2 linked regions of the Homo sapiens genome follow. The gene in region 1 interacts genetically with each later gene. Each region holds a gene or a part of one and is shown on either strand. Other genes may lie near its edges.

Region 1 (3,818 bases):
CTATCCTTTTCTCTCTTTCCTCCTCTTCTATCAGTTATTCATATATTTAAACCTTTTGATATTGTTCCATAAGACATTGAGTTTCTGTTCTCTTTTTTCTTTATTTTCTTCAGATTGGATCTTTTTTTTTTTTTCCCGAGATGGAGTCTCACTTTGTTGCCCAGACTGGAGTGCAGTGGTACAATCTCGGCTCACTGCAACCTCTGCCTCCCATGTTCAATAAATTCTCCTGCCTCAGCCTCCTGAGGAGCTGGGATTACAGGCACACACCACCATGCCCAGCTAATTTTTGTGTTTTAGTAGAGATACGGTTTCACCATGTTGGCCTGGCTGGTCTCAAACTCCTGACCTGAAGTGATCTGCCTGCCTCAGCCTCCCAAAATGCTGGGGTTACAGGTGTGAGCCACTGCACCTGGCCCAGATTGGATTATTTTTATTGACCTATTATCACAGTCACTTTTTATTCTGTCTTCTACTGAATTTTTGCTTACAGTCATGTGCCCTTAACGACAGGGATACCTTCGAAGAAGTGAGTCATATGTGATTTTGTCGTAGTGTGAACATCATAGAGTGAACTTACACAAACCTAGATGGCAGAGACTACTACACACCTAGTATATGGTATAGCCTGTTGCTCCTAGGCTACAAACCTGGGTGGCATGTAACTGTACTGTGTACTGTCTACAGTTGTAAGACAATGGCAAGGATTTGTGTAGCTAAACATAGAAAAGGTACAGTAAAAATATGGGATCACCATAGTATATATGCCATCCTGCATTGACTAAAACATTGTTATGCAGTGCATGCCTGTATTTTTCAAGTCCAGCACTTCTACTTGTTTCTTTTTTTTTTCTTTTTTTTTTTTTTGAGACAGGGTATCGCTCTGTCACCCAGGCTGGAGTGCAGTGGCACGATCTTGGCTCACTGCAACCTCTGCCTCCCCAGTTCAAGCAATTTTCCTGCCTCTACCTCCTGAGTAGCTGAGATTACAGGCATGTGCCACCATGCCCAGCTAATTTTTTGTATTTTTAGTAGAGGCAGGGTTTTATCATGTTGGCCAGGCTGGTCTCAAACTCCTGACCTCAAATGATCTGCCTGCCTCAGCCTCCCAAAGTGCTGGGATTACAGGCATGAGCCATTGCGCCTGGCCTGACTTGTTTCTTTTTTTATAGTTTCTTTCTTCTCTAAGATTTCTTATCTTCATTCATTGTGGGCATGTTTTCCTTTATATTTTGAACATAGTTTTATATGATGGGTGTTGTAAAATCATTATCTGCAGATTCCAATGTCTGGGTCATCTTAGTATCAGTCTCTTTGAGTATAAGTCAAGTTTCACCATTTCTTTGTATGCCCAGTAATATCGGATTGTATTATGAACATTGCGAGGAGTATGTTTTAAACCCTGGATCCTGTTAGGGTCCTCTGAAGAGGATTGGTTTTGTTTGTTTTTAGTGTGGTGTTTGGCCTTCAATTACATTTTAATTTTTTTCATTTTATGTCTTTCCTTCTTAATACACAGTCCATCACCTGGTTCAGTGCATGTCACCAAAAATTCTCCAGGGGAAGAGGATTGGTTTTTAGTTTTCACTGGTACTTAACTTGGTGAACGTGGCAGTTGAAGTACATTCTTCAGCCTTAGGTGGGCTGCTGTGATCTGTCCCATGCATGCATAGTTCAGGAGTCCACCAAAGATTCGGACCCAATTTATATGCTGAATTTAAGGGTCTCCCTTTGTGGTTCTCTCATTTCTGAAATGTTCCCCCTTCCCAATTGTTGTCATGCTCAGAACTCTATTTCTTGGTTCTTCAAGCCAGTAAGATTGTGGGTTTCTATCTAAGTTGTAGCTGCCACACTGGGCCATAAGGCAAAAATAAATACATAAATACTTAAAAACCTGGAAATTCACCCAGTGTGTTCCTTTTGTCCAAGTAAAAATTCTTCTCAGCTTCTGACAGCTTTTGGTTACTCTCCAGTGCTGTATGTGTAGTTGGGGGTCTGCGTCTCATACTTATGTGTTGAGGGTGGTCTAGTAAGAGTAGCCCTTTATTACTGGAAGCTCTAAGTCTATAATTTTTTTAAAAATTTCACTTGTATGTATTTATATTTTAAAATCATTTTGTCGTGAAATGATTCTCTGTACTGTGAGGTAGTACACAGAGGAATCTCACCCCATGCTCCACTACTTAGAATTAAATACATATTCCGCTGTAAGAAAGTAATCTAATTACGTAATAATTCCTATCCCCTTTTCTTCCCCGAGTAGTGATAGCCTGTAATTTGCGTACTTCCTTTCTGTCCCCTTCTAAAGCTTTTATTACATCATACATGTATCCATAAACTAAGTATAGAATTGTTTGGGGTGTGTTGCAAATACACATAAATCGTATCATATTAAATGTCAGTCTGCACTTTCTCCCACTCAGCATGGTTTTCCTGGTCTGGTCACGTTGATACATTTAGGTTTACTTCATTTTCACAGCTTATGTATTAGTCTAAAGTAAGCATAACTACCATGACTATTTATTTGTTCATTTTCCTCTGATGGATATTTAGTTGTTTCCAGTGTTGCGTATCACACCTATAATCAAGATGAAAGCAGCAGAAAATGCTAAGATGTTTTTTCTCCATGTAGGTAAGCAAACTATGGGCTTTCCACTTCTCACTTATCAAGACCGATCGGATAACAAACTGTATCGTCTTCAGACTCCTCAGAGTCCCTTGGTGAGACCCTCCATGTATGATTATTATGACATGGATAACTATCCAATTGGGACCAATGCCATCGTTGCTGTGATTTCTTACACTGGCTATGATATGGAAGATGCCATGGTAAGTTTTACCAGGAAATGTTGTTCCAATCTTTTTATTTTTTAACTTGTTTGTTTACTGTGAAATCACTGAAGGAATATTTTTGTGTACCCAAGTACCTAGTATTTGGCACGTGATGTTCTATTAAATGATTAGTTCTTAGTCTAAGTTGAAAGTGGGCAAGCCTTGAGGAATATCCACTAAATATTCAGATACACGTATGTCTTGCATATTTGAGTGCATATTATGAGTAAATTTTGAAGTTTGGTTTTGGATCTATCTACCTTTTATATTTAAGTATGATTAGATTTTAAGCTATTTCTGTGTGCCTGGGTTTTTGTTTTTCTTGTTTTTTGTTTGTTTGTTTTTTGTTTTTTATTTTTGAGACGGAGTCTCGCTCTGTTGCCCAGGCTGGAGTGCAGTGGCACGATCTTGGCTCACTGCAACCTCCACCTTCTGGGTTCAAGCAGTTCTCCTGCCTCAGCCTCTCGAATAGCTGGGACTACAGGCACCCATCACCATGCCTGGCTAATTTTCGTGTTTTTAGTAGAGATGGGGTTTCACCATGTTGGCCAGGCTGGTCTCGAACTCCTGACCTCAAGTGATCCACCTGCCTTGGCCTCCCAAAGTGCTGGAATTACAGGCGTGAGCCACCGTGCCCAGCCATGTCTGGGTTTTTGTAGTTAGTATCAGTGATTTGGAAAATGTGAGGAAAGTTAAAATGTGATGCCAGTTATCCTAAACCAAGTATGATAGTCCCACCTAGTTTTATTTTGAAAATCCTCAATTGGCCTCAGTCTTTTAACGATTCTTTTACTTCACAGATTGTGAATAAGGCCTCTTGGGAACGAGGCTTTGCCCATGGAAGTGTCTACAAGTCTGAGTTCATAGACCTCTCTGAAAAAATTAAACAAGGAGATAGTAGCCTGGTGTTTGGCATCAAACCTGGTGACCCACGCGTTCTGCAGAAGTTAGATGACGATGGATTGCCGTTTATAGGAGCAAAACTG
Region 2 (3,818 bases), on another chromosome or scaffold:
AAGGGAACATAAAATTTAGTAAAATTCTAATAACAATGCAAAATACATCTCCTTTGACATTAAAAGAGGTGAGTCAAAAATTCGTGTGCACCTATGTTATAAAATCTAAATAAATTATCTGGTCTCTTTCCCAATTAGTTAAGATAAAGAGATATGTCACTTTCAATAATACTTATAATTTGAGGAATTTACTTACATTTTAGGTAATTTCTAATACCATTTTTTTATTATCGATACGGAAGTACGCTGGGTTTTTTGCTCTATATTTGGTAGTGGTGATTTTTTTTCAGTATCAATCTTCTCAGTCAAGATTAGCCTTGAAAAATTAAATATAGAGTTTTTTGGATTTTGATTTCCCTTTAAAGACTTCCACAGAACTAGATGTTTCTTCTACTTTGTTTTAATTTAAGGCAGAAAAATATGTTTTGTGCTTCACTGTTGAAGGATGCTTTTTTAGAGACAAGCAAACTCAAAAGCAGGAGAACCACCACTCTTGTCAGCCCTGCAGTCCACCCAGCCCAGGAAAAAACGATGTCAACTCAAATTCCCCCTTGGCAATGAAGTTTTCCTGACCATTCCAATTAACACTCCTCTCTAGCTTCCCTGCATTCTTTTTGTACTTATCATAGCTTACACTTGAACATTTAACTCTTCTTTAATTTTTTAACATTTGTTAGTTTTATTTCTCCCACTAGATCATAAGCTCAGGGCCTAGGCCTCCATCCTCTAAGGGATGACAAGGTCTTTACAGGATCCAGATTCCATCCCACATAACAACCTGATCCAGAAAGAGTCTGAAAACATCCTGGACAAGCATGAGAGGATTTAAAAACAAAGGGAACCTTCAAGTTTATCCAATTCAAGCCTCTCATTTTAGAGATAAGAGGGTGAAGGACTAAAGCACTTCTAAGAAACTTGTCTTACACTAATTAGTTGGAGGCAGAGCAGGAAGTGGAAAGCGGATCTCTTGACCTGAGTATTCTTTGTAGTACACTAAGCAAATTCTGCAAGAGAGCAGGACCATGGCTTATTGACTCTCGTGGACTGGTGTGGGCCAGTGCTTTGCACTTCAAGTAACAAACTCAAGCCACTCAAGTGTGGTCTGGGGACCAGCCACAGCATAAGCTGCGAGCTCATTAAGACAGACAGGCAGAATCTCAAGCCTCACCCCAGACCTCCTGATTCTGCATTTAAAACATAATCCCCAGGTGATATGTATGCACATTTTGGAAGCACTGAGGCATGTACTGCAATCCCTGACTCAAAGAGACAGCAAACTGACTACATTAACAATGGTTCTCAATCCAAGCTGCACATTAGAACCACCTGTGGAGTTTTCAAACTGTTGCTGGTGTCTCACCTCAGACCAATTAAGTCAGAATCTACCTAGCAGATTCCAGCACAGCAGCCAGAGTTGAGAACCACTGCACTCAATTCCTTGGAGACCCTCTTTTGAACTCAATGAACAGAGTCAATCAGGTAATCTGCAGCTACCTCAGGAGAGAAGTCCACAAACAACTCAAGATCTTCATGAACACCATAGCTCATCTGGAGTTCTCCAAATGCTAAAATCACCTCTGTTAATGCTCTCTTCTTGGAGCTTTGACCATGCTGAGACTGCCTTTGAAGTGGTCTTTACTACTGCCCGAAAAACTAATTTCTGGCAACTTGGCCAGTCTTGACCTGGCCCTCTGAAACTGCCAGTAGTCTTGTAACTTAAAATTGCTCCAAGTCCAACTACACTTCAGCTATTAGGTCTCCTTGCTGTCCATTCACCACAAAGCATGATGCTTCACTCTGTCACTGTAGAAGAATAATTAATAAGAAATGTCCAGCTGTTATAACCCAAACAACTTTCATTATAAAGAGAATACTTCCTCACAGCCAAAACTCTTCCAGTTATCTAAATAGAATGCCCTTCACCTAAGACCAAAATAAGAAATATTTAAATGAGAAAAAAACCCCAAATATGCTAGATGAAAATATAGGAGAACACATATTTTTTAATATGATAAAAACCCAGAAGTCATAAAAGACTGGTAAATTCTACGGCATGCAACGAATTCTTAACACCATAAAGTCAAAAGACATATCAAAATGTGAAAAAGCATTTGTAGCTCATATCATAGAAAAGAACTAATTTTTTCAATATAAAATAGCTTTAATTTCCTCAAAATATAAATAGTTCCACCAAATCAACAGGAAGGGGTCCAATAGCCCAATAAGAAAATGAGCAAAGGATACACAGATAGTTTACTAAAGAGGAAATACATGTAGATAAAAATATGTTCAATGTTAGCCATAAGAAAAATGCAAATTAAAAACTGTGATAACATTTTTTACCTATCAGATTGGCAAAGATCAAAAAGTATGAAAGGGAATGTATAGACAAAGACATGGATAAAACAAGCAGGCACTCTCATACATTGCTGGGGCAGGGGAGTTAAAATTAGCATAAGATCCCTGAAGAGCAGGTTGGCAAAAACTATCAAAATTTAAAATGCACACACCTTGGATCCAGAAATGTTACTTCTAATAATTTACCTTATGGATATAGTCACATATGTAGTAAATAAAATTCATACAAATGATTATTAACATATTATTTTAATAGTATAAGGTTGGAAACAACCTAAATTTCCATCAGTGAAGATTGGCTAAATAAATTATTTTATGTCCAAATAATGGGATAGTATGTAACCACAAAAATAATGAATGAGTTCTGTAAATATTGAGTAATGACCAAGGCTGACCATTAAGTTATTTTTTAAAGCGCAGAACAGTATGAATATATGCATGCTACCATATGTTTAAATGTAACTGTACAGGCTATGTGTACACTGAATATATCCGGAAAGATACCCAAGACCATGGTATCACTGGCAACCTCTAAAGGTTTGAGTAAGGAAAGTAGAAGGGTTAGAAAGGAGACTTAACTTTTTAATGTAAAACCTCTTTTGTGCCTATAAATACATGGCACTTCATTTTAAACAAATAATTAATTGCCCTTTGCACATATGCCTCCAGGCCACCACATTGCCAGAGTAGATTCCAATCTTAAACTTCTAAGGAGAAAATGTCCTATAGGTCTTATAGAATCCAAGAGAGACAAGCAAGTTTTCTAGTGTAGTGCCGATTGCATTTTGGATGGAGATCTAAGGATTTCCTGATAGAACACGTTTGGGTCTGTTTTAGTACAAGCTGTCATAGGGCTATGCCACCCAGCAAGCTATGTTATGCCTGCTGGAATCCAGCTAACAAAATAATTATAGGGCTTTTGTTGCTGAGTTTAACAAGATCTTCTCTAGACACATCTAAAAGAAAATGGGTGGTTATCTAAGGGTCTAAGCTCTACTTCAGAATAAGGCATTTTATATACGACTTCAACTCAAGTTAACTGCCCAGAATGATCAACTGCAGGAAGGGCTTGACAAGTCCATAAAGGAGGAAGACAACTGAAGTTTCTAGGTCAATGCCAGCACTGATCAAACAAGGCCTTCAAGGTCAGTGGAGCCCTGAGGAATAGGTCAAACCTAGGCCACAGATCTCAAGTGACTGTTCTTTGCTGCTGTAGAAGATCAAACCAATACTATCAGTAGCTGTTCAAAACTGATTAACCTTGGGGTAAAAAGAAGAAACTAGAAACTACTGCTAAGTAGAAAAGTTTATACTAGGTAGGTCGGACATTAAACCAATATCCATCCATTTTTTAAAGTTAAAGGTAAGTAATGTAGGCAAGGAACTGTTATGGATGTAGAAGATCCTCCAGAACACAATGCTGAATGTGTTAATACGACTCCTCCCCATACCCCAAATAT

Evidence for each region. A genetic interaction does not mean that the proteins touch.
Region 2: of POLR1B (region 1) and ATG10, changing one suppresses a phenotype caused by changing the other (phenotypic suppression), as found in Homo sapiens cells (one large-scale study listed by BioGRID).

What each region holds. Positions count from the first base shown.
Region 1 is NC_000002.12:112,569,930-112,573,747, forward strand, and holds part of POLR1B (DNA-directed RNA polymerase I subunit RPA2), read left to right. Parts: intron 1-2,632; coding exon 2,633-2,829; intron 2,830-3,632; coding exon 3,633-3,818. UniProt on the Homo sapiens protein: Catalytic core component of RNA polymerase I (Pol I), a DNA-dependent RNA polymerase which synthesizes ribosomal RNA precursors using the four ribonucleoside triphosphates as substrates.
Region 2 is NC_000005.10:82,051,713-82,055,530, reverse strand, and holds part of ATG10 (ubiquitin-like-conjugating enzyme ATG10), read right to left. Parts: intron 300-3,818; exon of another isoform or gene 197-299; intron 1-196. UniProt on the Homo sapiens protein: E2-like enzyme involved in autophagy. Acts as an E2-like enzyme that catalyzes the conjugation of ATG12 to ATG5. ATG12 conjugation to ATG5 is required for autophagy. Likely serves as an ATG5-recognition molecule. Not involved in ATG12 conjugation to ATG3.